Linked DNA regions of Homo sapiens. The protein of the gene in region 3 interacts with the protein of the main gene of each other region in a pairwise test. Each region holds a gene or a part of one and is shown on either strand. Other genes may lie near its edges.

What was found.
Region 1: the proteins of CT55 (region 3) and BFSP2 interact in binary tests that used the Homo sapiens proteins (3 or more experiments, as listed by UniProt).
Region 2: the proteins of CT55 (region 3) and GPRASP3 interact in binary tests that used the Homo sapiens proteins (3 or more experiments, as listed by UniProt).
Region 4: the proteins of CT55 (region 3) and CABP5 interact in binary tests that used the Homo sapiens proteins (3 or more experiments, as listed by UniProt).

What each region holds. Positions count from the first base shown.
Region 1 is NC_000003.12:133,466,047-133,473,071, forward strand, and holds part of BFSP2 (phakinin), read left to right. Parts: intron 1-781; coding exon 782-913; intron 914-6,298; coding exon 6,299-6,519; coding exon of another isoform or gene 6,520-6,523; intron 6,524-7,025.
Region 2 is NC_000023.11:102,715,911-102,723,760, reverse strand, and holds the start of GPRASP3 (G protein-coupled receptor associated sorting protein 3), read right to left. Parts: upstream 3,019-7,850; 5' UTR 2,936-3,018; intron 2,805-2,935; 5' UTR 2,670-2,804; intron 2,398-2,669; exon of another isoform or gene 1-2,397. Other genes in the region: ARMCX5-GPRASP2 (G-protein coupled receptor-associated sorting protein 2), read right to left, coding at 6,375-7,850; GPRASP2 (G-protein coupled receptor-associated sorting protein 2), read right to left, coding at 6,375-7,850. UniProt on the Homo sapiens protein: Survival and differentiation promoting protein that plays a role in the regulation of neurosynaptogenesis. Induces phosphatase PP2A activity which results in APP dephosphorylation and inhibits BACE1-mediated processing of APP.
Region 3 is NC_000023.11:135,161,377-135,168,401, forward strand, and holds part of CT55 (cancer/testis antigen 55), read right to left. Parts: intron 1-7,025. UniProt on the Homo sapiens protein: Plays a role in spermatogenesis, possibly acting in the regulation of the autophagy pathway.
Region 4 is NC_000019.10:48,041,057-48,048,137, forward strand, and holds the start of CABP5 (calcium-binding protein 5), read right to left. Parts: upstream 3,024-7,081; 5' UTR 2,867-3,023; coding exon 2,804-2,866; intron 548-2,803; coding exon 517-547; intron 1-516. UniProt on the Homo sapiens protein: Inhibits calcium-dependent inactivation of L-type calcium channel and shifts voltage dependence of activation to more depolarized membrane potentials. Involved in the transmission of light signals.

The DNA.
Region 1 (7,025 bases), on a different chromosome or scaffold from region 3:
GTGCAAAATTAATTGCTGTCTCTGCCATTGAAAGTAGTGGCGAAAACTGCAATCGCCTTTGCACCAACCTAATATGTACTGATATAGAATAATTTCTAAGATACTTTAAGTACCAAAGCACGGGGGGGGCAATACATATTTATTTATAAATATATAAACTATTTCTGGAAAGAGGAATAAGAAACTAGAAACAAGAGAACTGGATAATTAAGACACAGGAGAAAATGAGACTTTATAGTCTGTAGGAAATCTTTTGAATTGTATTTCATTTGCAGGCATCGTATGTTCAAAATAAATACATTTTTGTATACAAGTTGGTGAAGGGACCTGTTTAAAAAAAAAGACATTTCCAGCCAGGCGTGGTGGCTCACGCCTGTAATCCTAGCACTTTGGGAGGCCAAGGCATGCGGATTACCTGAGGTCAGGAGTTCAAGACCAGCCTGACCAACATGGTGAAACCCCATCTCTACTAAAAATACAAAAAAAATTAGCCAGGCCTGGTGGCGGGTACCTGTAATCCCAGCTACTCGAGGCAGGAGAATCGCTTGAACCCAGGAGGAGGAAGTTGTGGTGAGCTGAGATCGCACCACTGCACTCCAGCCTGGGCTACAGAGCGAGACTTCATCTCAACAAAAAAAAAAAAAAAAAAAAGATGTTTCCACGTGACAGCTGTATTTCCTCTGGTTAGAGGCAGTGGAGTGGTGATTAGAAAGGCTGGGAAGGAAGGATGGGCTCAGATTTCTGATCATCACCGCTCACACTGAGACCTGACTCTCCACAGCAACAGGCGGAGGTGGCCCACATGTCCCAGACCCAGGAGGAGAAGCTGGCAGCTGCCCTCAGGGTGGAGTTACACAACACTTCGTGCCAAGTCCAGAGCCTCCAGGCTGAGACAGAATCCTTACGTGCCCTGGTAAGTGGGCCAAGGAAAGACCTGGTGTCCTTGTGCTAATTTTAACTCTCTACTGTCAAATTCCAGTATTATGGATCTTAGTTTCCAGGGGATTCCCATCTCACAGCATATGAGTTTTGAGGCCTGAAATGTCTTCTGACTCCCAAGGATCATCAGATACTGAATCACAGCAGGTGCAATAGACACTGTAGTGCCCCACGGAAATATCTCTTACCAGGCTGCTGCAGTAAATGTTGACTGTTAACATCTGCAGCCGCCCCTTTTCAGCTGCCCCACTGCTCCAGAGACCTGCCCTTACCCACACTGAGGACACCTGGCCCAGAAGGTTAGGCCCTGCCCCCCAAGGCTCAGCCAGTGACTAAGAGGGGGCTTTAAAATTAAAAGCCCAGCCCTTTTGCTTCAACATGGAGCTAGCTCCATGCTATAGAGCTCTCCATAGGACCAGGCTGTAGCCAGATTCCAGAGACCACATCCTCGCTTAGTGCCTTCCTCTGCCCTGTCCTGCTTTCCTCACTCCCCCTTTTCCTGAGAGTACTCCTTAATGATTTGCGAGTTCCAGGATCCCTAACTCAGGCTCTGCTTCTGGAGAACCCAACCTGAGACATCTAGTAAGCTCTCAGACTCACTGGGATTTGCAAGCTCGTCTCTTTCATTATTAATTATTTATTAAAATATTAAAATAATAAAATGTATTAATAATGAAGCAATCCACCCTCTGATCTCTGGAATGGATTGAAGTTCTATTTGGGTATTAAACATCTTTTCTTAGATGTCCCCTCCAGGAGGTCATTTGCATTGTTCTAACTACAGCTTCGTTGGTGCAAATCAAAGGTTGGTCCATGTAATCCTTGTGCAGCTGAGATGGCCTGGAGTCAATGAGGCGCATGATAGGATGTAGGTCCGTGCAAGCATGTATAAGAAAAGGATCTGAGGATCTGAGGGGAGGAAAATCAAGAGTAATAGAGTCAGAAGGGCTCAGCTCCTCCATTTATCCCTTGGGTAAAGAGGCAAATCCCTGAACCACAGTTTCCTCTTCTGCAAAATGGGTATGATAGTCACAGTCCAGCCCACTTCTCAGTGTTTCTAGGGGGATCCAATGTGTGGATGCACATGAGCATGCTCTTCTGACTCTTAGCATTATTTTGAGAACTTGCTATGTTCCTAGAACTGTACCAAGTGCTTTGGAGACATAAAACTAATGAGATATGGTCCCTGCCTCCAAAGAGTTAATGTGGCTTCGGTGGAGGAGCTGATACAAATGTGAGGGAGGGGCAGATGGGAGAGAGCACCCCTGCTGTGGGAGTCAGGAGGTAGACTTCGTGGTGGGTGCTCTCCTCACTCACTAGCTATGTGAATGAACAGCTTTCATTTTCTCACTTGTAAAGTGAGGATCTATTTTGGCTATCATATCTAGTTACTGTCTTAGTAGCTTAAGACAACAGTGAATCACTTGTTCTCTCATTCTGTGATTTAGGCAGAATTCAGCAGGGATAACTCTTCTCTGTATCATGTGGCCTCTGCTGGGGCTGGAACACCCAAAAATGGCTTCTTCATTTAGCTTCTCTGGTGACTCAATTGTGCATCTCTTTTTCTCTCTCCCTGTGACCACTCCGTGTAGCTAGCTTAGACCTCCTCATATCATGACAGCCTGACATAGTCAAACTTCTGATATAGCACCTGAGTGAGCACAGAAGCTACCAGGCCTCTTAACACCTGGGCTCGAAAGTCTCTGGACATCACTTATACCACATTCTAGTGGTCAAAGCAGTCACAAGACTATCCTAGATTCAACAGGGAGAGAAATAAATTCAACTTCTTGATGAGACAATGGCAAGGTCACATTGAGAAAGCGATTGTGGAGTGGAGATAATTGTTGTAGCTGCCAATGCAAGTGTGAGCCACTTTAGGATCGTAATAGAATTTACCTCATAACGTCATTGAGATGATTAATTTGATAATGTATGTCAAGCCCTTAGCACAGTGCCTGGCAGTTAGTGAGCAGTCAATAAATGCCATCTATTATTAATTATCATATAAAATTGCTATAATAGCTACTAGTACAGTAACTCCAAGTTGGCATCACCAGCCACCTGGTCACCTCACTTAAACCCAGGGTCCTAACCATTGGGGAAAAAAATGGAAAAATAATTTACACTCTCAACCAGAAAACTTCAGAGTAGTGCCATTCTGTCTATGCCCATAGCCCAGAACAGGCTGCCTCTGTTCCCTGCTGGTTCTAGTAGATTATCGTTCTGGTCACGGGGCCTTGCAGCCAAGGTGAGGAGCACAGATTGGGACAAAATAGGTAACAAACTCTCATACAGTTTTCAGATACAGGAAGTTCATCCAGCCATTCCTGTTATTCTGTCAGAGCGATCTGTGCACACACAAGGCCCCCGCAGCTTATATAAGCTTCAGACAGCCAAGCTGGCGAGACTTTCGGCCCCCTTTGCCAATAAGGCACTATTTGCATTGGAAGCTAGGCACAAATAATGGTGCTTGAGACCTGCTGAACTCTGTGTCCAGTCAACTCAAATCAGGAATGGAATTCAAGGCCAGAAGTCACAGAAGGTCACTATTTTACTTTCTGGAGGATTTTGCAATCCCAGAAAGTCCCTTCAAATCTCCAGAGACCTGCAGAATAAGTGTGCTTCTGTGATCTCAGCTTGTTTGCTGGTGCTGTCTGCGTGGCTGACTGAGCCAGTGTACTTGCCTGCAACAGTAGCCTGATCATAGTCACTCCAGCTCAAGCATCTCTGGGAGAACCAGGCATCCTCTCTTTCTGCCATAATGTCAGGGACTTAGGTGGGGAAGCTGGATTCGGACTTTAAGGGTGAGATGGAAGACACATATAACCTTTGGCTGGGGTTCCAATGAATGCCCTGTTGGCAGTGGGTCCTAAGTCACCATGGAAAAACCTCAGGCCACATGAAGAACTCACCTAGAAGATGGAGCAAAAACTATAGACAGATGATCCAACCGTGATTCTGTGAAGCGTGTTCCCAAATCACAGATGTTACAAATCCAATGTCAACAACAACTAGTCACAAGTTAAGTACTTTCATGCATAAACAAAGAGAGAAAACCCAGGGAGGTTGGAACAAATGATGCTCAAAGTCAAGGTGGCCATTTCTGCATCCTCACTGCTATAGAAAGGTTTCCAGATTCTATTAGTTAAATAATAACCCTAGACCAGATACTGATCTAGATTTATTTTCTAGTGATCACGTTTTGCCTCTTATAAATATGCCTCAGACAGATGAGAATCTGACTCAACATTCTCATATCCTATGGAATTAAGAAGATTTAAATAAGGTAATATGGTGATCCATGCTAACAGCAGTCATGATTCAAGATGGTGTCGTGACAGAATTTTCTGTTTCATCCATAGTGGTCATAAGGGTGTAAAAAGTCTCCTCCTGGAGGACAGGGTACAGAAACTTGTTGCATCAAAATTTAATTCAATCCAATTTAGAAAGATATTTGTTTTTTGTGTGTTATATTAAAAAGCCAGATGCTAAAGTATAGGTGAACCATAGTTAAAACTATTGGAAAATGTTGAACACAGATACAGTTTTTTAAAGGGGTTTATTGATTAGCTCTGTAGTTTTCAGGACATGGTGCATGGGAAGATGAGAAGAAAGAAGTTTCCAGTCTAATGGGGAGACATAGATAGTGCAATAAGTGTAACCATAATACAAGTGCTATCATCCAGGGCAATCTACACATACCAAGAACCTATTCTGTGCCAGGCCCTGACTTGTGTGCTGGGACTACAGAGACTTGGTTCCTTCCAAGTCTCACCATCTGGTGGAAAAGACGTGCCCATAAGCAAGCTTAGCCCACTGTGATAAGTTCAAGAGCATGCATGAGCTTGGGGAGCCATGGAAATACAGAGGGTCTCCTAACCCAGCTTGGTGATGGTAGCGGCAGAGGAGTTTCAAGGAAGGCTTCCTGGGGCAGGTTACCTCTAAGCTTGGACTTGGGGATGAGTAGGAGTGAGTGAGGTGAGGATGCTGGAAGGAATGGAGGAGCATGGTGCAGGTGGAGGAAAGAACACAGACCAAATAAACTCCAAGACTGGAAGTGTTGATGCTGCTGTAGGGTGGGGATAAAGATGGAAACATACTGGGCCAGCTGTGTGTGCCATATCAGGGGCCCTGGGGAGCCATCAATGGAGTTTAAGCAGAGGAGATACAGGCCCAGGTTTGGGCTTTGGACAGAGTACTGTGGCTATTTGTGTGTGGAACTCAGGAAGAGGAGGAACTAGAGGTGGGGAGATGAGCTAAGAGGCCACTGAGGGTACCACAGGTGAGAGGTGACAAGCTCCCAATCCCAGACCATGGTGGCTGCAGAATGTGAAAACTTCTCAAGAGATACAAGAAGCAGGACTCATAATATACAGGAGGCCATGATGGTTGCATTTGGAAGGAAGAGAAGGAAGGAAAGCAGGAACACATCTTTCCCTGGTTTCCAGCTCACATGGGTTCACCCGTTGAAGCATAGACTAGGGGGAGCCAGCAGGTTCAGGAGGCAGCCAGTGGCTTCATTTTGGACACCTTGATGTGAGGTCTGAGTATATGTTTCCAGTAAGAAGTTCAGTGGCAGGTCCATAGCTACTGAAGGAAAGATTGGTGGTGGAATTATCAACGCAGGACGTGGCCTGGAGACGACTCATGAGTATGTTCAAATCATGAGTATGATGGAGACCAACACAGACCCAGGATGCGCTCCTTGGAAAAAAAGCGGGCTCAGGGTGGGCACTGGGAAGCCCAAAGTGAAGGGACGGCAGAGGAAAAGGGATGGGCAAAAATGTGCTACTAAAACACCAAAGGGGAAAGCGCTGAGTATATAAAGGCCAGAGACATTCATTCTAAGGACAGTGATCTGGGAAAGAAAGCTGGAGGAGATGGTGTTCCAGCCAAATGATGGATGGGGTTTCAGCAGCAGAGGGAGAAGGGGTCCCCCGGGGAGTGAAGAAATCAGAAGAAAAAGCCCCGGAGAACAAGATTTCTTTGAAGAAACGCCTGCAAGCTGCCTCTCATTTGTCTCTCTCAATCCCTATCCCTCTTGCCCCGCTCCTCTCTCTCCTCACACCCCCTTTCTTTTCTCCCTCCCTCTCTCCTTCTCTTTTTCGCCTCCCTCACCCTCTCTCCCATCAAAAAGATCAATCAGACTAATCCACAGTCTGACCTGAGTGGGATTCCTTATTTTTCCCACGGAGCCACTAAGAATAACCCCCATCAGTCTCCATAACTGGCAAGGTCCCTGCCACGAGGGGAATAGTCCAGGCTACCACCAGCCCCTGCCACTGCTCTGCACACCTCCCTCTTCAAGGGCCCGGCCTGTTGTCCTCGGGTTTGGACCGGGTTCGCTCTTTTGTAGAAACGAGGCCTGGAGAACACCTTGCACGATGCCAAGCACTGGCATGACATGGAGCTCCAGAACCTGGGCGCTGTGGTCGGCCGGCTGGAGGCGGAGCTCAGGGAAATCCGAGCGGAGGCGGAGCAGCAGCAACAGGAGCGCGCGCATCTGCTGGCCCGCAAGTGCCAGCTGCAGAAGGACGTGGCGTCCTACCACGCCCTGCTGGACAGGGAGGAGAGCGGGTAAGCCTCGCTTCCGCGTCAATTATCCAAGAGATGCATATTCATGGCTTTAAAAATAATTATTTTCCAAACACTGTAGAAGTATTTAAGAAGAAATCACCCCAGACTTCCTCTCACATAGGCACCCATTCCCACAGCCTAGCTGTGTCCTTCCTTTCCTATTCACATACAAATAATATATATAATATATTCACATACTAATACATTTTCTATATGTATGCATATTTATGTATGTATATATACACACATACATTCACATACATGTGTATACCTAGGACGTACATAATAGCTGTTAGGAATGTTTCAGTTGCTTGTAATAGAACCTAATTAATGAGGCTATAAACCAGTGCTCCTGAAACTAATGTGCACTCAAAACCCTGCGCATCTTTTTTTTTTTTTTGGATACAGGGTCTCGTCTCGGTATGTTGCCCAGGCTGGTCTCGACTCAAACCCCTGGGCTCAAGTGATCCTCTCACCTAAGCCTCCAGAATAGCTGGGGTTACAGG
Region 2 (7,850 bases), about 32 Mb from region 3:
AATCACATGGTTGGTCCTTCTGGTGACCAGTCCCCATCCTGAAGCTATCTAGGGGCCCACCATAAGTCACTTCATTAGCATAACAAAGATACTCCTGTCACACAGGAAATTCCAAGATTTTTTGAAGCTGTGTCAGCAACTAGGGATAAAGATCAGCTATATTCTCTATTATACCACACCATACTTGAAGTCTTCTCTGTTGACATACTCGAAAAAACACACAGAGACAAGAGACAAGACAGCTTGAGTAGAAAACCATAAGCTGAATGCTGGCCCCAGTACTTATATTATCAGAATTCTGGAGAGTAAAGAGAAGAAAATAATAGGAGAGGGTAGGAGACGAGGATGCAGTCCTAGGGACTAATCTCTACCTATGATTTTGCCCCACATACCTTGTATCTATCCTAGCTTTTAAGTCTAAATAGGAGGGCTTAAAGTAGTAGAACAACATAGTTTCAACTCTATAAACTTGGTATAAACATAAGGATAGGAGTGGGATTAGAAAAAGTCATTTCTTCCTAGCAACACTTTCTTACACTGACTTTGTATGTATTGTGATATATGAAGAAATCAGCATTTGATCTTTTTTATTTTGATTGAAATTTGAAATGAGTTATTTTTAAAATTTTTTAAAATTTTTAATTCACATGGATATGCAATATTTGTACATATTTATGGGGTATAAATTATATTTTGATATAAGCATAGAATGTGTAATGTAATTGAGATATACATCACCTTAAATATTTATCATTTTGTTGCACTGAGGACATTCCAAATCTATTCTTCTAATTATACTGAAATATATAATAACTATTGTTAACTATAGGCACCCTATTGTGCTACTGAACACTAGATCATATTCCTTCTAACTGTATTGTTGTACCCATTAACCAACTCCTTTTTATACCCCATCCCCAATACCCTTTCCAGCCTTTGGTAACCATAATTCTTTGTCCCATATTCCTGGCATAGAGCTCCTAGAACCCTTGCTATTTCCTGATAGGGATAACGGAAGCATCTTTTGTTACATGTGGCTTTAGTCTCAAGTTCTTGACACTAAGACCCTTGGAATCTCTGGAGTGATAGGTGTCTTTTTTTATGTTCCGAGATGACTGGTGGGTGCACTAGATAGCTTCAAGATATGGATGGTCACCAGAAAGACCAAGGCATGATTAGAGGGTTGGAACTTTCAGCCTCACCCCTTGACCTCCAAGGAGAAGAGAGGGGCTGAAGATTGAGCTAATCACCAATGGTCAATGATTTCATCAATCACGCCTATGTAATGAAACCTCTATAAAAATCCCAAATGTCTGAGAGGTTCCAGGTTGGTGAACTCATTCATATTCTGGGAAGGTGGTGTACCCCAAATCCACATGGATGGCAGCTTCTGCATTTGGGACCCTTCTGGACCTTGCCATATGTACCTCTTCATCTGGCTTTTGATTTATATCCTTTATAATGAACCAGTAATAGGAAGTAGTGTTTCCCTGAGTTCTGTGGGCCCTTATAGCAAATTATTGAACCTGAGGAGGGGGTTGTGGGAACTTCCAACTAGTAGCTAAGTCAGACAGAAGTGTGGGTGACATGGAGATCCATTACTTGTGACTGTTGTCTGAAGTGAGGGAGGGCAGTCTTATGGGAATGAGCCCTTAACCAGAGAGGTCTGCACTAACTCTGGGTAGTATCAGAATTGAATTAAATTGTAGAATACCTAGCTGATGTCCTCAAAGAATAAGAGAATTGCTTGGTGTGAAAAATCCACACATTCTGTGCCAGAAGTATTGTGGGTAGAGGAACCATTTTCTTTCACTTGGTACCCAGTGGGTGCATGGGGTAGGGGGAAAGGAGGATACTCGATGTGAAAGAGGACAAGGACTTACCATGGGGCTGCTACCTAGGATGGGACCAAAGAAACACATCCTAAGGAATGAGCAGAGATCACAACACAAGAGAGCAAAGGGTATGCAGAGGGAAACTTAGGAGACTATCCATGAAGCAGTTTCTGTAGGTGGTCCCCAGAAAGACCCTCCTCTGAGGCCCAAGACAGCAGGGAGAGAGAGCTCACACGGAGTAGCAACCCACTTTGTGTCCCTCAATGGGAATGAGATCCTGCTGCATGGGGCTGAGATCCAGGAATCCCCTTGGGGGTCGAGAAGCTTGGAGTATCCTAATGAGAAATCCTAGGTGAAGGGCCCACAGCATCTAGGTTTCCTCCCCTCGAGTCTATGTCTCCTCCTCCTTTTCCTAGAACTGCCGGGATTGAGGTTCATTCCTCTCTTGCATCCCCAGCCAGCTGGAGCCTTGGAGCAAAAGGCAGATGTATGTGTTCTCTTCTGCCCTCCTCCACCCTCCGCCAGTTTTGAGCTGGTATCAGCCATCCCCACTGCCTGAATACTGCCAGTAAGAAGACAGAGAGTAGAATGAGTGCGGACGCATAGCTCACGGTTCCCATCCCCACCCCTGCCTTTCCTGATCCAGCACCACAGGTGTTCACGAATTGTCACTTCACCATTTCCCCGCTCTGGGCTCCCCTGAAGCCAACTCCATCCATATGCCCACCTCCCCCACCCACACATACAAACACAGGGCACTGGGCTGGGAGCCTTGGGATGAGGGGTCAAGGGTGTTCAAAAGGCAGGAGGGAGCAGGCGGATCTGAGGCATTACCTGCACCCGCATCTAGTCTCAGTCACCACCTCTCAGGGATGCCATCTGCCGTCCTTGCACCCACCTCCTCCAACAGCAACCGCTGCTCCTCTCCACGAACGCGTCGGGCAGGTAGACTCTCTGCTTCTTGAGCTCCTGGACAAAAGACAGACGGGCTAAGACGCTCCCGGTTGGCTGACGGATTGTTTCCTTTACCAACAAATGCTGTAGTTCCAGTCGCCTGAGAAATTAGTTTTCAGGCTGATGCAGCATGGAAAGACACCTACCTACCTTAACATCCCGCCGTTCCTCCCACGTTCTGCTCTGCGGAGCACAGGTGTCGTCCGCCTCTCAGGTCTTTTCTGGATGCAAGAAAACACTCCTCTCGGCAGGCCTAATGCAGAGCCTGGTCACATGACCCACCGTCAGCCCCACGTGACTGCGCAGTCAGCTTGTTCGCCGCAGTCCTGTACCATGGATGACAGTCTTCTGCCTCTGGGGTGCTTGCTAGAAGATCCTGAAGCTCCTTGGCCAGACAGCTGGAAGGAAGGCTGGCCTTTGCTCTGGAGGACCACTCGGCTGGCGAGGAACATTCGATGAGGATTTGGGAAATGAAGTGATTTTTAATATTTTGTATACGACTCAAGCGACATACTAAAACACACACAGATCTGTCTTGAAAAATGCTGGTAAGCAAAACAAACATTCAAACTCCAATTTGCACCACCAGGATAATCCCTGTTAAAACTTATGGCTTGCGATGGGAGGCAAAACTGCCACTTCCATATTACCTTACCAAACTAGGATCAGGTGGGGAAAAAAAGCATGTTGCACTGTCAGAAAAATTATACCAAACTTAGATAAAGTCACCTTCAGTTACTGGATGTCATTTCAGGGCAGTGCAGGATGTCTATTGATTTACCTATTTTTCAACTCTGTAGACACTGATGTTAACATGTAGATATTTTATTCAATAAATATGTAAATGATTTATGTCCAGTGCAATAGAAAACCTTAAATGTTACAATTTATTGCCCTGTAAGATATTAACCCGTTTTATATTTAACCTGGCAGTGTTATTCTAACATTTATTAATTTCCTATGTGTTTATGAAATTCAATGTTTTGTTTATATCTTCATATTGTGTATATTGTATATACACATATACCCTTCAACTGTTTTCTTAATCCTAGCAGTTGTTGATTGTGTTGAAAAATCTTTCACATATTCTTTTTACATTTACATGAATTGTAATTTTACCTTTGAAAATTTAGAACATTCTCAGACAAATAAATGTTATGTCTAAAAATAATAAAACATTGGATATTTCTCGTACGTCTGAATTTCCTCTCCAAACCAACATATAGCCCTGTCTTCCAATTCTCCTGACTGAAGGTATTGTGTGGTCATTTTTTAAATTATCGTGGCAAAATACACATAACATAAAATTTAACATTTTAACCATTTTAAAGTATACAACCCAGTACATTATCAATGTTGTACAACCATCACCACTATCTAGCTCCAGAACTTTGTTGTCACCTCAAAAGGAAATGTTATGTTTTTTACGGTAATAATTATGTGAAAAAGGTGCCATTTTTGTACCATGAACAGACTAATATTAAACTTAACACCCTTGGTAATTTTTTTTTTTTTTGAGACGGAGTTCTGCTCTGTCACCCAGGCTGTAGTGCAGTGGTGCGACCTCAGCTGACTGCAACTTCTGCCCCCCAGGCTCAAGCGACTCTCCTGCCTCAGCCTCCCCAGTAGCTGGGATTACAGGCGCACACCACCATGCCTGGCTAAGTTTTTGTATTTTTACTAGAGACAGCATTTCGCTATGTTGGCCAGGCTGGTCTCGAACTCCTGACCTCAAGTGATCCACCCACCTCAGCCTCCCAAAGTGCTGGGATTACAAGCGTGAGCCACCGCGCCTGGCCCACCCTTGATTATTTTATTTTATTTTATTTTTTTTGAGACAAGGTCTCACTCACATCACCCATGCTGGAGTGCAGTGGTGTGACTATGACTGACTGCAGCCTCAACTTCCTAGGCTCAAGTGATTCTCCTACCTCAGCCTCCTGAGTAGCTAGGACAAGTGCGTGCCACCATGCTGGGCTAATTTTTTTTATTTTTAGTAGAGACAAGGCATCAATATGTTGCCCAGGCTGGCCTTGAACTCTTGAGCTCAAGCAATCCTTCCGCTTCGGCCTCCCAAAGGGCTGGGATTACAGGTGTGAGCCACTGTGCCTGGCCAATTTTAATTTTTATCTTGAAAACGTTTTATAAAAAGCTAGTCTTTCTGATAGCTCATTCATTTACAACTTTTCTAAATGATATTATCTCTAATCATTTTTTAACACTTATAGTTTATTCATTTATATAATTCTGTCCTTTCCGGCATGCTCATCTATAACTCAAGGCACAAAATGTAAGCATATTAATTTTTTAATTTGTCTTATTAATGTTTGTATCTCCCCAACGCCTGTCTCTAAGCATTTTTTAACAAGGTATATATTTTATTCCAGACTGTGTTTAGAAATTCATATTGAAATTGCATAGGAATTGTGTACATTTACAGATGTTTTAAAAATGGAATCTAATTTTCCATACATGATGTCACATTCTCTGTTTCACCAAATATAAAATAATTAATGTCCTTTTGTGTCAATAAACCTATCCATACATAATCATTCCAACGGCTGCATGGTATTTCCTTAACACTTTCCTTTGTCTAGGAATATAAAGGAAATCATATTCCCCACTCCATTTAATTGTGCTATCCTACTCTTTCAGCCTTTAGGTGGCATTGAAGTAACACCTGTACTTTGAATTGTTAAATATGCAGATTTGGCTTATTCTGTTCCCCAAATTGGCCTCTTCCCAACTTTCTAACTGCATTTCTCATCAAACTCCTTTTACTTGTTTCAAGCAGACTGGGTTCATCCATGCTACTAGAACAGATTATTCAATTACACACTTTTCTTCAAACCACCACTGCCCACTTCCAAGAGCAACCTAATGATTTGTCTTATCCTACCCTTAGGCAAATCCCAGGGCTAAGATGGTAATTTAAATGGGTCCTATAAGAAGTATTAATTTTAGGTTGCTTGTTGGGAAGGCTCATAATTGGGCAAGCAGGCGGGCAAGTTGTCTTGCTCTCCTATCCTGACCAATTTGTTCTATCCTGACCAATTTAAGTGGGTCCCTCTTCTCGGAAACATTCCTCAAGTATCAGGGCCCACAATAATCTCTCCCTTCTTAACTCAAGAACAGAATTTTCTAATAAGCGCATGTTTGTCATACTAATAATTACCTATGTTTGTAAGTGCACACGATTTATCTGTACATGGTTCTTAAACTGAAGAAGGGTCACTTATGCCAATTTTAACATAGAACTTTATTGAAAACACAGACTCAAATAGAGAACCATATATTTAAACAACGAATAGCAGGGTAGCTTACTTAGGTGACACAGTTCATTGAAAACTTAATACTGAAAAATACCGCAATCTGGACAGCAAGACAAATATCAACAAATGTGTTTTCAGTTTTGATATTCATTTGGCATCCACAAAATGATCCAGCTCAAAACAAGAGTTTGACAAAGTTAACATCAGCATTAAAAAATATAAGTTACAACAAAAAAACAGACTGTGAACACCAAAGCACTACTCAGGGCTCTTTGGGAACATAAGGCTGATCAGCGGCAGGTGGTTAATCATATTAACTTTGTTGTCCCACCTCAGGATCATTTTGGTTGTCTATTTGGGCTTGTAGTTGCTTAGCTAACTCCTCAAATTCACGAAATGCAGAAATAAGCGGCTCAAGACTGAAATCATCATCAATTAAGGACATCTTTCCACTTTTTATAATGTTACTGATATTCTGAAACATTTTAATAACAATTTGAATATTATCATTTGTCTCTTCTATGTTAAAGAGACCCACAAATATTGAAAGAGCTTTGGCACTGAATAGTTTTTTTGCCACAGCAGGATTTTCAGACAAATTCAATAGCATTTTCAGAACGTGAAACTTCGTTCTCGCATTGGCTGTGGTTAATAAGGAGAGAAACCCGGACATATAGTTGGCAATCAGTGTGTGATAGTCAATAGTCATAGTGAGGTGTCTAAGCATCCTTATTCCAGTCAGCTGCTCAAGGGAATCCACACTATGTGCAAGGGTTTCCTCACACACTTGACATATGAATGTCTCAATCATGTTTAGATTTGGATAAGGTGGAGCCATGTGAATCATATTTTCCAAAAAACTTGTCCTAACTCTAGAGGATGGATAATTAAGCAAGGTTTCAATAAGTGAGACAACACCTGAATCTCGAATGAAATCTCGGGTAAATTGAGAAGCACTTCTCATACCCATTGCAATTTTAGATATTTCATGAATAAAAGGATCCCGAATTTTGTCCATTAATAAAAGGAATTCTTCAAACTCTTCAGAACCAATTTTCAGCTCACATTGTATGCAGCTGCAGGACCAACTCTCAGACTCTGCACTCTCCCTGGCCCTAAGATGCTCTCGAATTTCCCGGACTGACCGGTAGGAAGGATCATACTGAAATGTGAACTCAGGACTAGGCTGATCAGGCTGAAGCAAAGATTCCTGCTCTTCTCCTTCTGGGCTAAGTTCCAGGTTCTTGGGCTTTGCCTCAAGCATTTCAGAAGCCTCTTCGGGAATTCCAAAGGGGCTTGTGGATCGGAAGCCAACCCCATGAAAAAGACCAGGTTTGAATTCAACAGTGACCTCGTCCCAGGTTTGGGGCCTGGAGGATGCATTAAGCTCCTCAGCTGCATCTCTGAACCTATCACTGACCTTGTACACAGGACAGGGATTTAGGTCAAAGCAGGCCTCATCTCTGTCCCAGAACCAGGACCCAAATATGGCCTCTTCTTCAGACTCCGGCTTGGCCTCTTCTCTGGCCACAGCCCCCAAACTGGACTTTTCCTCAGCCCAGTACGCGGATCCGCCAATGGCCCCCTCCTCAGTTCCTGGCTCAGATTCACAGATTGCTGAAGCTCCACCCTCCAAACTGGCCTCTTTTTCTGCCCAGAACCAGGACCCAATAATGACTTCCTCCTCAAACCTGGGTTCTTGTTTGACCCTATCACTGTCAACATCTTTCTGGGCCCTGAGTTTCAAGGCAGTATTAGGATCTTCTTTGTCTCTGTGCCTGAATCTACT
Region 3 (7,025 bases):
TCACCAGGGACTACATTTTTGGCAGTAACACTCATCCTGATGTTTTTGTCTGTGCACAAATATATATACATGTGTAAATGCCTGTTTTAAAAGCAAATTAGCATGGTATTCAGTGTTAAAGTATCACATTAAATGAACACAAAAGTTTTTAAATAACAAGAGAGGACGGAAAGAGTCATAGGGAATCCCAATTAATGGATGTGCCGTAATTTACTAACCCAATTTCACATAATTAGACATTTCACTTGTGTCATAGCATTTGGACTACTTGCCTGACTTAACTATAGGATAAAATCCTAGGGTTGGCATTTGCTGAGCAGAGACTTCTGATGGAAACTTGAGCCACTGAGTTGTAAAGAATTTTTCATGGTTTTAAAAATAGCCTAGTTTGCTGCTATTCTCATTTCTAAACTGGTGTCTTTCCAGCTGTCAATACCAATCTGATGTTTATTATCCCCTCACTTACTGTCATGAAGGAATGAGGCATTAGCCTCCCATCCACATATCTATCACCACTTCCGTCAGTATCCCAGTGGATGATCCACAGCACCCTCGGACCTCTCTGTTCCTTGACTCCACGCCAACTCACAGACATATGCAGACTAAAGCTTTGCCCATGTCTCATGGCTCCCAGCTCTGTTTCTTATGCCTTGCAAAGACGACCAACACAACAGCCGGTACAAATAGATTCAAATGTTTACGATAATGTGTTGTATGACACAAGTGGCATTTCAATAAAAAGGGGCAATGTGGATTATACAATTAATGTTGAGGGACAACTGAGTAGCCAGTAGTGAAACAAGATGTGGATCCTTCTCTCAGTCCTGCACATGAAAAGCAAACCCAGGCTGGCTGTATGTTTAGATATAAATAAATGAATGACTTTCAGAAGAAAAGCTAAGTGAATACTTGTGTAAATTATGTCTTAGAATTAGCCTAAGGATACTTCCTGAACCCAGAAGCCACATGGACAAGATGGACATATTTATAGTATGTAAAAATTAAGCAGATAGAGGAGGAGGGGAGCAAGATGGAGAAATGGGACTCTCCAGTGATTGTCCTCCTGCAGAAACATCAATGTGAAAAACTATCCTTGTATGAAAATATCGTCACTTGACATAAAGAAACCAGGTGAGAGACCATGGTACCCGGTTATAGCATGAAAATAAGAAAACATGCACTGAAGAGGGTAGTAAGGACAGTTTTACATTACCCACATCACCCCTTCCCCGACCTTCAACAGCAAAGCATAAATAGAGATACCATCCATCCAGAGGAGAGAGACAGTAGCAAGCATAGGACATTGCCTAGGAACCCAATATCAGGCCACCACTTGACAGATGCCCATGGCCCCTGACTCTCAGATGGTACTTGTGGACAGAGTCTCTAGACCCACCCTGGCACCAGACAGGAAGCCACAGCCACAGCAAAACAAACTCAATATCTGGCCCACATCTCTCCCTAGTGATTCCAGTGGCCTTATGCTCAGAATAATCTACAGCAACAGGGAGTTCTCAGTGAATGGAGGCTTGGATTCCAGTCTCACAAGGGACCAGCCTCAATAGCTAGGGGAATCCCAGCCATCCTAGCACCTGCCGCTGTGTCCCTGTGAATAGGCATCCCCCTAGTGCTTCAATAGCTGTAGTGTTCACAAGCATAAGGACCAAAAGAGACCTATATAGAGTTTCTGGACAGGCTTACTGCTAAAGGATGTCCCCTAAAAGCTAGACTGCAAAGACCGAAATGGATACCTACTTCTTCAATACGCAGATATAAACACATTACCACAAAGATCAAACACAATAAGGAAAACATGACATCACCAAACTGACAAAACAAGGTGCCAGCAATTGACCCTAGAGAGACAGGAATATATGAGTTGTTTAACAAATAATTCAAAATATCTATTTTCCACATGCTCTGTGAACCTTGAAAACAATTACAGAGAAATGATTCAGGATTTATCAAAGTAAGTTGCAGGAAAGATTGAAAGAATTGTTAAAAACCAAGCAAATCCAGAAGTTGAAAAATACAGTGAAGGAAGTACACGATAGAGAACATCCAAAGAAGAATTGATTGAGCAAAAGAAAGAATCTGTAAACTTGGAGACAGGTTCATTGAAAATATACAGTCAGAGGAGACAAAATTAAAAGGAAGGACACGGAATGAAAAAAAACTAGATTTCTGGGACAATATCAGAAGAGCAATAGTATGAGTCATTCACATTCAAGAGGGAGGAGTGAAAAAGAGGTAAAAAGATCATTTAAAAAATAATAATGGAGAGCCATCCAAACCCAGAGAAAGTTACAAACGTCTAGGTACTGGAAGACCAAAGTTCTGCATTCAGATACAATCCAAATAAGATTACCCCATGACATATTAAAATCAAACTGTCAAAGATGAAAAATAAAGAAAGAATCCTGAGAGCAGTAAGAGGAAAGAAGCAAATCACATATAAGGCAGTTCCAATATGCCTACCAGAAGACTTCTCAGCAGAAGCATAATAGGCCAGGAGAGAGTAGTATAGTATACTTTAGGAACACAAGGAAAAAAATCTCTAAGCAAGAATAATGTACCCAGCAGTGAAGGGGAGATAAAGACTTTTACAGAGAAATCACAGCTGAGAAATTTCCTCACCACCGCAACTGTCTTACAAGAAATGCTAGGGAGAGTTCTTCCAACTGACGTAAGGGACGCTAATGAGTAATGCAAAAACATCTGAAGGTATAAAACTCACCAGTAAAGGTAACGACACAAATTCAGAATACTCTAATAAGGTAATGGTGGTTTCCAGATCACTTATATCTTTCATGTAAAGGTTAAAGAACTGAACTAGTAAAAATAAAATAAGTACAATAATTTGTTAAGGGATACAAAATATAAAAAATTGTAAAGTGTGAAATAGAAAACTCAAAATCCCAGGGTGGAGTTAAATAGTAAAGTGTTTGTATTTTGTGATCAAAGTTATGTTATCAGTAAAATAATCTGCCGTGATTATGTTTCCGTAAGCCTCATGCTATCCACAAAGAAAAACATCCTGTAATAGACACACTAAAACAAATACAAACAAAACCACAAAACACACTAATAGAGAAAAATCTCTTATCCATCAATGAAAACAGTAAAAGAGAAAGAAAGGAAGAAATTACCTACAAAATAGATAGAAAAAAATTATCTAAATGACAACAATAAATCCTTACCTATCAATAATTACCTTGATAGGAATGGATGACATCCCCCAATTAAAATGCACAGAGTAGCTGAATACATTTAAAAAGCAACAACAAAAACAATCAAACCTATGAGAGACCCACTTCTCCTTAAAGGGCATTCGTAAACTGAAAGTGAAGACATGAAAAAAGATATTCTTCCATGTAAAGGGAAACCAAAAGAGAGCAGGAGCTGCTAAACTGATTTCAAATAAAATAGAGTTTAAATCACAAACTGTAAAAAGAGACCAAGATCATTATAGAATGATGAAGGGGTCAATTCATCAAGAGGATATAATGATTTCCAAAAATATGCACCCAACATAGCAGCACCTAAATATATGAAGCAGACATTAAGGTATAAATGGTGAGATAGAGTGCAATGCAGTAATAGTAGGGGACTTCAACACCCAACTTGCAGCAATGAACAGATTGTCCCGACAGAACATTGACCCCACAAAAAGTGGGATTTATCTGCACTCCGGACCAAATGGACCTGACAGTCATTTACAGAACATTCCATCCAAATACTCCAAAACACATATTCTTTCCAACTGCATGTGGAACATTCTCGAGGATAGATTATGGGGCAGGTCATAAAACAGGTACTAGCAAATTAAGGGAATTTGAAATAACATCAAATCAGTTCTCTAACCACAACGGTAAAGTATTAGAAATCAATAAAAGTAGGAACTTTGGAAACTTTAGAAGTGGATGGAAATTAAACAACATGCTCCTAAATAACCAATGGGTCAATGAAGAAATTAGAAGCAAAGTGTAAACATTTCTTGAGTTGAAGCAAAATGAAGGCACAACATACGAAAACCCATGAAATACAGCAAAAGCAATTCTAAAAGTGAAGTTTACATCAATAAAACCTACCTCAAAAGAAAAGATACATCTTAAATAAACAACCTCACACTGCACCTTGGGGAACTAGAAAAACAAGAAAAAAATGCAATGCAAAATTAGGACAGAAATCATAAAGGTCAGAGCAGAAATAAATGAATAGAAATGAGAAGAACAATACAAATATCAATGAAACAATGACTTGGTTTCTTGAAGAGGTAAAGCAAATCAACAAAACTTTAGCTAGACTAAGGAAAAAAGAGAGAAGATTCAAATAACTAAAATCAAAGATGAAAAAGGACACAGCACAAATGACATCACCAAAACAAAACGTATCATAAGGAAGATTATGAACAATCATCTGCCTACAAATAGGACAAGCTAGAAGAAATGGCTACATTCCTGGACACATACAACCTACCGAGATGTAATGGTGAAGAAATGGAAAATCTGAACAGACCATTAATGAGTAAGGAAAGTGATTCAGTAATAAAAAATCCCCCATCAGTGAAGAGTCCAAGACAGAATGACTTCCCTTCCTAATACTACCAAATTTATATATAAAGAAGAATAATTAATAGCTATACTTTTAAACCTATTCCAAAAAAAAAAAAAAAAAAAAAAAAAAAACGGACAAGAGACGAACACTTCCGAACTCATTCTGTCACAACGCATTACCCTGGTAGAAAACCCAGATGAGGAAACAGAAAGAAGAGAAAACCAAAAAAAACTACATGCCAAAATTCCTGATCAACACAGTTGCAAAATCTTTAACAAAGTATTAGTAAAGCAATTTCCACAGCACATTAAAAAAATCATTCACCATGTTCTAGAGGACTTCATCCCTGGGATGCAGGGAAGTTTCAACATACACAAATCAATAAATGTGCTATATCACGTGAAAAGAATGAAGGAAAAAAGCCATAGGTTCATTCCAATTTCAGCAGGAAAAGCATTTGATTGAATTCCACACCTCTTCGTGACTAAAAACTCCACAAATTAGGTATAAGAGGAGTGCACCTCAACACAATAAAGGTCATATATGATAAACCCACAGATAACATCATACTGAATGGGGAAGTGTTGCAGGCTTTTCCTCTAAGACCTGGAACAGGACAGAAATGCCCACTTTTGCCCTTTCTATCGCACATAGTTCTGGAAGTGCTAACCAGAGAAATTAGGCAAGAAGAAACAAAAGGCATCTAAATTCAAAAGGAAGAATTTAGATTGGCCCTGTTTGCAGACGGGAAGCTGTTACTTATAAATAACCCTGAAGACACCACCAAACAGCTACTAGGTCTAATAAACAAATTCAGGAAAGTGGCATGAGACACAACCAACATACAAGAATCAGTAGTATCTCTATACACCAATAGGGAACTATCTGGAAAAGATATCAAGAAACAATCCCATTTACAACACCTTCAAAAAAATTAAAATAGGAATAAATTTAACCAAGGAGGTGAAGGATTGCAACACTGAAAACTATAAACCATTGACGAAGCAAATTGAAGGAGGCAGGAATGAATGGAAATATATCATGTGTTCATGAACAGGAAGAATAAAATATTGTTAAAATGTCCGTAACCTAAAGCAATCTATAGATTCAATGCAACTGCTATGAAAATACCAATGACATTCTTCTTGGAAATAGAAGAAATACTCCTAAAATTTGTATGGAACCATGAAAGATTCCAGACAGCTGAAGCAGTCTGGAATACAAGGAACAAAGCTGGAGGCATCACACTATGATGTCAAAACATATGACAAAGCTATAGTAAGCATAACAGCACAGTACCAGTATAAAAACGGACACATCAACCAATGGAGCAGAATACAGAGCCCGGAATTAAATCTGTGCATTTACAGTCAACTAATTTTTGACAAAAGGCCCGAGAACACACAATGTTGAGAAAGTACAGTCTCTTCAATAAATGATGTTGAAAATAACTGGATATTCATCTGAGAAAAATGAATTTCCACCCTTATCTCTCAGCGTGTATATAAATCAACTCAAAATGATTTAAAGCTTTAAAATGAAGACCCAAAGCTGTGAAACTACTAGAAGGAGACATAGGGGGAAAGCTCCATGACATTGTTCTGGGCAACGATATTTTAAAAACAGGACCTCAAAAGCAAAGGCAAGAAAAGGAAAAATACACAAATGGGATTACATTGAACTAAAAAGCTTCTGCACCACAGAGGAAACAATCAAAGAGTGGAGAGACAATCTATGCGATAGGAGAAAACATTGACAATCTATGTATCTAGTAAGGGGTCAGTTTCCAAAATGTAACTCCAACAACACAATAGCAAGAAAACAAATAATCCTATTAAAAATGAGCAAAAGACCTGAATAGACATTTCTCAAAAGGAGACATACAAATGGCTAACAGGCATGTGAAAAAACACTCACCTTCTCTAATCATCAGGGTAATGCATATCGGAACCACAGAGATACCGAGTCACGCATGTTAGAATGGCTAACATTAAAAAGACAAGATATAACAAGTGTTGGCAAGGATGTGGAGAAATTGGAAGCTTTATGCACGGTTGGTGGGATGTAAATTGTTACAGCCACCATGGAAAACAGTATGGACATTCCCCAATATTTTAACAATGGAACTATCACACTATCCATGAATCCCACTACTGAGCATGTATCCAAAGAGAGTGTCATCAGTGTGTCAAAGAGATGTCAGCACTTCCATGTTTGTTGCAGCCCTATTCACAATAGCTATGAAATGAAAGCAATCTAAGTGTCCATCTACGGATGAGTGTATAAAGGAAATGTGGTATAAATACACAAGGGAATGCTATTCAGCCATAAAACAGAACAGAATATTGCCGTTTGAAATAACCTGGATGAACCTGGAGAATGATATGTAAGTGAGATAAGCCAGTCACACAAAGACAAATACTGCACGGTCACATTCACATGCAGAAGATAAAAAAGTTGATCTCATA
Region 4 (7,081 bases), on a different chromosome or scaffold from region 3:
ATCCCAGCTACTAGGGAGGCTGCCTCAGCCAAGGCAGAAGAATCGCTTGAACCTGGGAGGCGGAGGTAGCAGTGAGAGGAGATCGTGCCATTGCACTCCAGCCTGGCAACAAGAGCAAAACTCTGTCTCAAAAAAGAAAAAAAAATTCAAAAAGGAGTGATGTATGAAATGTGTTAGCAAAAGAGGCATCATTCCTGAGACCACTAAATGAGAGCACTGGCGTCCTTCAGATTCCTGGATGAAGTTATGGGGAACCTCAAAGTCACCAAGAGAGAAACTCATTTGTTTTCACTCCTGAGTCTTGGAGATACTTGAGGATGGATATGCCTTCGAAATACTTTGGGAAGTCCTTCAACTGCCACGAGAAAGAGTTCTACAAAATTACAGTTGAGTGGGAAGAGAGAGGGATTGTAAAAATTCCATGTAATGGAATTTATACGGAAATGCACAAAGGGACTGAGGGCAGGTCAGGTGGGTGGATGGCAACGTGGAAGCAACTGGGGAAGACGGTGTTACCTTCAATCTCATCTTGTCCCAGTGGTCTTTCCTGGAAAGGAATGCAGATGAGAGGGAATTTGGAGAGAGGGTCACCCATTCTCCAAAGGGTCTCCTTGTTCTCCCAAGCTCCTCCCCACGCTCTCGTGGTTCTCTTTCCATTCTCTCTCTCCTCCTCCATCCCTCCCATTCCTTTTCCCATCTCCTGACTCCTGTTCCACAGTTCTTGGCTCCCCACCCCCCTCTCGATGTCTCTCTCCCACCCACGAATCCCAATCTCCCTTTTTCTCCCTTTCTGAGACAAACACCCATCACATTGTGTCAAAGGGGGTCTTAAACACTGGGGAGTCCAATCTCCAGATGAAAAAAGTGAGACTTCACAACCACAGCTAACTCATTCAGAGTGGTGACTCTGTGCCAGGCAGTTTCCACAATCATTTCATTTAAACCTCAGTACTGCTCTGTGATGCAGATCTACATCTCGTTTCCATCTTACCCATGAGAAAGCTGAGGAACAGAGAGGTTAAGGAACCTGCACAAGGTCACACAGCTCACAAGCAGCAGATCCCCTCCCAAGGGAGGAAGGCATTCACCTGCTCCCTGGAGGTCATGGGGCAAGTCAGACACAGTATTGGGATTTGAATTCAGGGCTCCTGACTCCCAAGTCAGAATTCTTCACACTAGCCCCCATTCACTCCTTTCTCACCTGCCTCCAATCTTCCTGCCAAAGGTTAGAATCTCTGTGCATGGAAACAGCATTCAATGGCTTTCAGGCAGGAGGGTCAGTGCCAGCATGACCAGTTCCTAAACACTCTGAGAATGTCCAGTTATTGCTGCCCCACCTACTCCTGCACATACCTGAAGGGTTGGGCTTACATATACATGGCATGTTAACAAGGAAATTCTACTGACCTCTGGTCTCTTTAGCCTTCCCATCTCCCTTTATCCCTGGAGCCTTTCCCTCAGCTTCTCTTTCATCTGATCCCCTCCTTGCGGTCCCTTATCACCCTTTTTTTCATTCTCTCTCTCTTTTTTTTTTTTGAGACACAGTCTCGCTCTGTCACCCAAGCTGGAGTGCAGTGGCACGAACTCGGCTCACTGCAACCTCTGCCTCCCGGGTTCAAGCGATTCTCCTGCCTCAGCCTCCCGAGTAGCTGGGATTACAGGCGCCTGCCACTGCACCCGGCTAATTTTTGTATTTCTAATAGAGACAGGGTTTCACCATCTTGGCCAGGCTGGTCTTGACCTCCTGACCTCGTGATCCACCTGCTTTGGCCTCCCAAAGGGCTGGGATCACAGGCGTGAGCCACTGCCTGGCCTTTTTTATTCTCTTTTTTTGGTGATCTTAAAGCCTAACAATGAAAAGTATGCCCACATATCTGGACAAGTTGGTATATATGGAAAAATAAAAAAATTTTAAAAAGCATGCCCACAGGAATCAAGCAAACCCGACCCTGCCACTTACTTTTTTTTAACGAGACAAAGTCTCACTTTGTTGCCCAGGCTGGAGTGCAGTGGCATAATCAGGGCTCACTGCAGCCTCCACTTCCTGGGCTCAAGCGATCCTCCTGCCTCAGCCACCTGAGTAGCTGGGACTGCAGATGCATGCCACCATGCTGAGCTATTTTTTTGTATTTTTAGTAGAGATGGGGTCTTGTGTTTCCCAGGCTGGTCTCAAACTCCTGGACATAAGTGATCCTCCCGCCTCTGCCTCCCAAGATGCTGCGATTCAGGCATGAGCCACTATACTTGGCCGACCCTGCCACTTACTAACTGTGTAAGCTTAAGGCAAATGACTTCATGACTCAGAGCTTCACTTTCCTCACCTGTAAAATGGGAATGAAAGTCACTGACCTCATGAGTTGTTCTGAGGTGTAAATAACATCAGGTGTGCAAATCCCTTTGCACAGGGCTGGGCACAGAACAATGACTTAATAAGTGGCAGCTATTGTTATTAACGTCATCATTATCATCACCACCACCACCATCATCACCACCATTATCACAATGAGCATCCATAGAAAAGAATGATGGTAATCTCAACAATGACATCATCCCACTTTCCCTTTTCATTTTTCTTCCTTTTCTCTCCTTCTCTTTGCTCCTGACTTTTGATTTTACCCCCACCCATTTATCTCACTGGCTTACATGACCCCACCAGGGTCCTTGGAATTTCTTATACCTTCTCAGCTCCTGCTCTATCCACCTGTTCCCCTGGTTCTGTGGCACCATCATGTCCCCTTCTTTGTCCCACACCCCTGCTCCCTTTGCCCCGCCCACCGCCCTTCCCCCTCACTCCCCACCTCACCCGCTGTTTCTCAGCAATGCCTTTCCTCAAGAAGATGCAGGCGGGGCCCATGGGGAACTGCATGGAGGGGTGGGGTGGAGCTCGCAGGGCACCAGTCTCAAGATGGCCCCTCCTCCCTGCTCCCTGTCGGAGCTCAGCCTCCTTATCTTCTCCAGCACTCCTTTGCCACCTCTTCCTGCCTCTCTTGGCTTCTCCTTCGGTCCCGGTGTCTTAGAGCTGTGACAGCTGGGCTGGAAATCTCTACCCGGGTTGGGGAGGGACCAGAGCTGTCCCTGCCTCCCCATCTGGCTTGAATGATATGGGTGGGGAAATGCAGAGTCAGGTTCTGTGACGCCTTTATCCCCAGAGTGGAATTGGAAAGTGCATTTTATAAATGGGGATTAGAGGCTGGATGTGGTGCTCATGTCTGTAGTCCCAGCGCTTTGGGAGGCTGAGGTGGGAGGATTGCTTGAGCCCAGGAGTTTGAGACCAGCTGAGCAACATACGGAGAGGCTGTCTTTACAAAAAATAAAAAAATTAGCCGTGCATGGTGGCACACACCTGTAGTCCCAGCTGCTCCAAAGGCAGAGATGGGAGGATTGCTTGAGCCCAGGAGTTCAAGGCTGCAGTGAGCTATGATTGTACCATTGCACTCCAGGCTGCAGTGAACTACGATTGCACCATTGTACTCCAGCCTGGCTGACATAGTGAGACCCTGTCTCGAAAAAAAGAAAAAAAAAGAAAAAAAAGAAAAGAAAATGGAGGATTAGAGCAGACGGCATCATTTATTCAATGTTCCAACAAGCATGTGAAGGGTCACTCCAACACTGGCCTCTGGGCAGTGAGATGGAGAGCTCAGCACCCCTGGCCTCAGGGAGTTTTCCTGGGTGAGTCGGGAATGTGTGAGAGTGAGCAGGATGCAAGCATGGACTTCAGGAAGTGGGCGTACACGGTGACTAAGAGCATGGCATTTGCTCTTCCTCTGTTCATCTCTTTCCTTCTGTCTTTCCTGAATGATTTAGAGGGAAAAAGCAAGGTGGGGGTGTCAGGGAGGGTGTGAAGTTATGGTGGTGTCAAAGCCCAAAGGGGTTTTGCGACTCCACACTAGGTAGGGTTAGGGGAGGAGGGGGCTGGGGGCCATCTGGCGTGGAGAGCCAGCATTCCAGTGGGGTAGTGGGGTGAGGAGAAGTCCACATAGAGGGGCAGCATGACCCAGGGTGTTGGGGCTGGAGATGGTGGGGATAAATCCACAGATGGGCAGCTTGGTGTGCAGTGTTGGAACATGAGCTGAGTGGGGCGGGGGCATTTATATGCAGGCATTGTCTGGGGTGGAGGTTTGCACTGTAAGGCAATTAGGAAGGAGGCCACATAGAGGGGATCTGGCATGGGTTGTCATAACCCAAGCAGAGAGAGAAATGTCCACTCATGGGAATAGCATGGTGTATGGTGTTGAAGCCAGACTAGGCTGGGAAAGACATCCCCACAGGGGTGAAATGGCAAAGGAAAAGGGAAATTGGCTACACACAGTGAGTAAGGGGAATGGGGGCCAGGTCTCCTACTGTTGGAAAAGGGAGTTACTAAGACAGAAAGGAGGAAAGTCGAATGAGCCCTGTGGTGTTGGACTATAACTGGAGGCGTTGGTATGTCCTCATGGATCTCAATTATACATAGAGAGATAAAAATAAACACATAGTTTCAGTGTGTATAGGAACATTTGTACACATATTCTCTAGCTCTCTCCACTAAGAGAACATAGAAACAATGATGGCCCATATGAATGAGCACCACTAGCATCCAAATCTTGACTTCTATATACCATTCTCCACCAAATGGAACCAGAGTGCCTAGGAAATTTGGCTGATTCCATGTCTAGAGCAAAAAAAGAACAAGATGAGCCTACAAACGTCCTATGCTTAAAGCAAGAAATTGCTCAAAGTGTTGTGAGAACATGTGGAAAGAACACAGGAGTCTGCTTGAAGAAGCTCCATTGGCCATACTGGGCAGTTTGAGAGTCAAAATAAATAATGATAGTAACAAATTATACAGGACCACAGAAGAAACCAGGAGTCCATACTCAGATAAATAAAAAGCTAAGTGAGAAGTTTGATATTTACAGAGCTCAAAATACCTCCCTACAAAATACCAATTTCAAAGGAGTTACGTTATAGTGGAGAAACGTGGCAAACACCATCTTAGTCAATGAAAGTGGACATCATCAGTAATGTGACAAGTTGGAATTTCACACCACCTGACAGGATGTCACGAGAACAGCATCGCTTCTGTAAGATTCCTGAATCTCATCATAATCAGACGTCAGACGAACCCACATGGAGGGATGGTTTACAAAATAACTGGCCTGTAAGCTTCAAAAATGTCAAGGTCATGAAAATCAAGGAAAGATTGAGGAACCGTTCGAGATTGGAGGAGACTAAGAAGACATGGCCGAGGCTGGGCGCGATGGCTCACACCTGTAATCCCAGCAATTTGGGAGGCTGAGGTGGGCAGATCACCTGAGGTCAGGAGTTCGAGACCAGCCTAACCAACGTGGAGAAACCCCGTCTCTACTAAAAATACAAAAAAATTAGCCCGGCATGGTGGCACATGCCTGTAATCCCTGCTACTCGGGAGGCTGAGGCAGCAGAATCGCTTAAACCCAGGAGGCGGAGGTTGCAGTGAGCCCAAGATCGTGCCATTGCACTCCAGCCTGGGCAACAAGAGCAAAACTCTGTCCAAAAAAAAAAAAAAAAAAAAAAAAAAGCTACGACTGAATGCAACACAGAATTCTGAACAGGATCCTTCTGCTATCAAGGTCTTCTTTCGGATGACTGGTGGTTTGCTGGCAATAGTTTGGCGGCCCTTGGTCAGTAGAGCCTCACCCCAATCCCTGCTTCCATGTTCACATGGTTTCCTCTCTGTATACATGCCTGTCTCTGTCTTTAAATCCCCCCCCCTTTTTTAAAAGAATTTTATTTCAAATCTGGGATACATGTGCTGAACATGCAGGTTTATTACATAGGTATACATGTGCCATGCTGGTTTGCTGCACCAATCAACCCGTCACCTAGGTATTAAGCCCTGCATGCATTAGGTATTTGTCATAATGCTCTCCCTCCCCTAAATCCCCCCTTTTCTTTCCTTTTTTTTTTTTTTTTTTTTTTTTTTTTGAGACAGAGTCTTCACTCTGTCACCAGGCTGGAGTGCAGTGGCATGATTTGGCTCACTGCAAGCTCCACCTCCTGGGTTCAAGCGGTTCTCCTGCCTCAGCCTCCCGAGTAGCTGGGACTATAGGTGTGTGCCACCATGCCCAGCTAATTTTTGTATTTTTAGTAGAGATGAGGTTTCACCATGTTGGTCAGGATGGTATCAATCTCTTGACTTTGTGATCCACCTGCCTCGGCCTCCCAAAGTGCTGGGAGTACAGGCGTGAGCCACTGCGCCCGGCGAAATCTCTCCTTTTCATAAGGACACTAGTCATTGTGGATTAGGGTCCACACGAGTGACCTCATCTTCACTTGATGACATTGGTAAAGACCTTATTTCCATGCAAGGTCACATTCACAGGCACTGGGGGTTACAATGGCCACATCTTTTGGTGGGGGTGGGACACACAATTCATCCCATAACAGTCCTGCTTTAATTCTGGAAAGCCTGTATGAATAATAATTGCTCTGGAACTCCGTCGGTGCCAGACTAACTATTCTAAGGTCTTGAGACTCATGAACTCATTTAAGCCTTTCTAGGATACAGGCTCCGTGATGGTCTATTCTACAGACGATGGAACTGGGGCATGGAGGCGAAGGCTCTTGCCCATGTTCTCATGGTAAGCAGATAACAGAAGTAAGATCCAAACCCAGCTGTGGAACCACCATGCTTAATTGCTGAGATATAGATGGAAGAAGATGGAAAGGAAAGGGGGAAGGGAAGAAAGGAACAAGTAAAGGGTACACAGAGGGTGAAAAGGGCCGCAGCAGGGGTGGTGGCAGACCAAGACACACACACACAGCTAATCCATCAGTCAATCAGCAAGCATTTATTGAGCACTTGTTGTATTCTCAGAGCTCCACTTGGCTGTGGAGAGATAGCCCATGATTTAAGCCCAAGTTCTTACTTCTACAGAGCTAACTTGTGCAGAGCTACTGGCTAGAAGTGCAGTCATAAAGGAGCAGTGGAAGGCATTGGTCTGAACTATCACATTCATTCTGGCCATCTGGACATTGGACATGATGCTTCTGATTGTCAGACACTCATGCTCCAGCTCCAGGATCTCCCGAGGGACCTGCAGGACAAATTTCACCACCT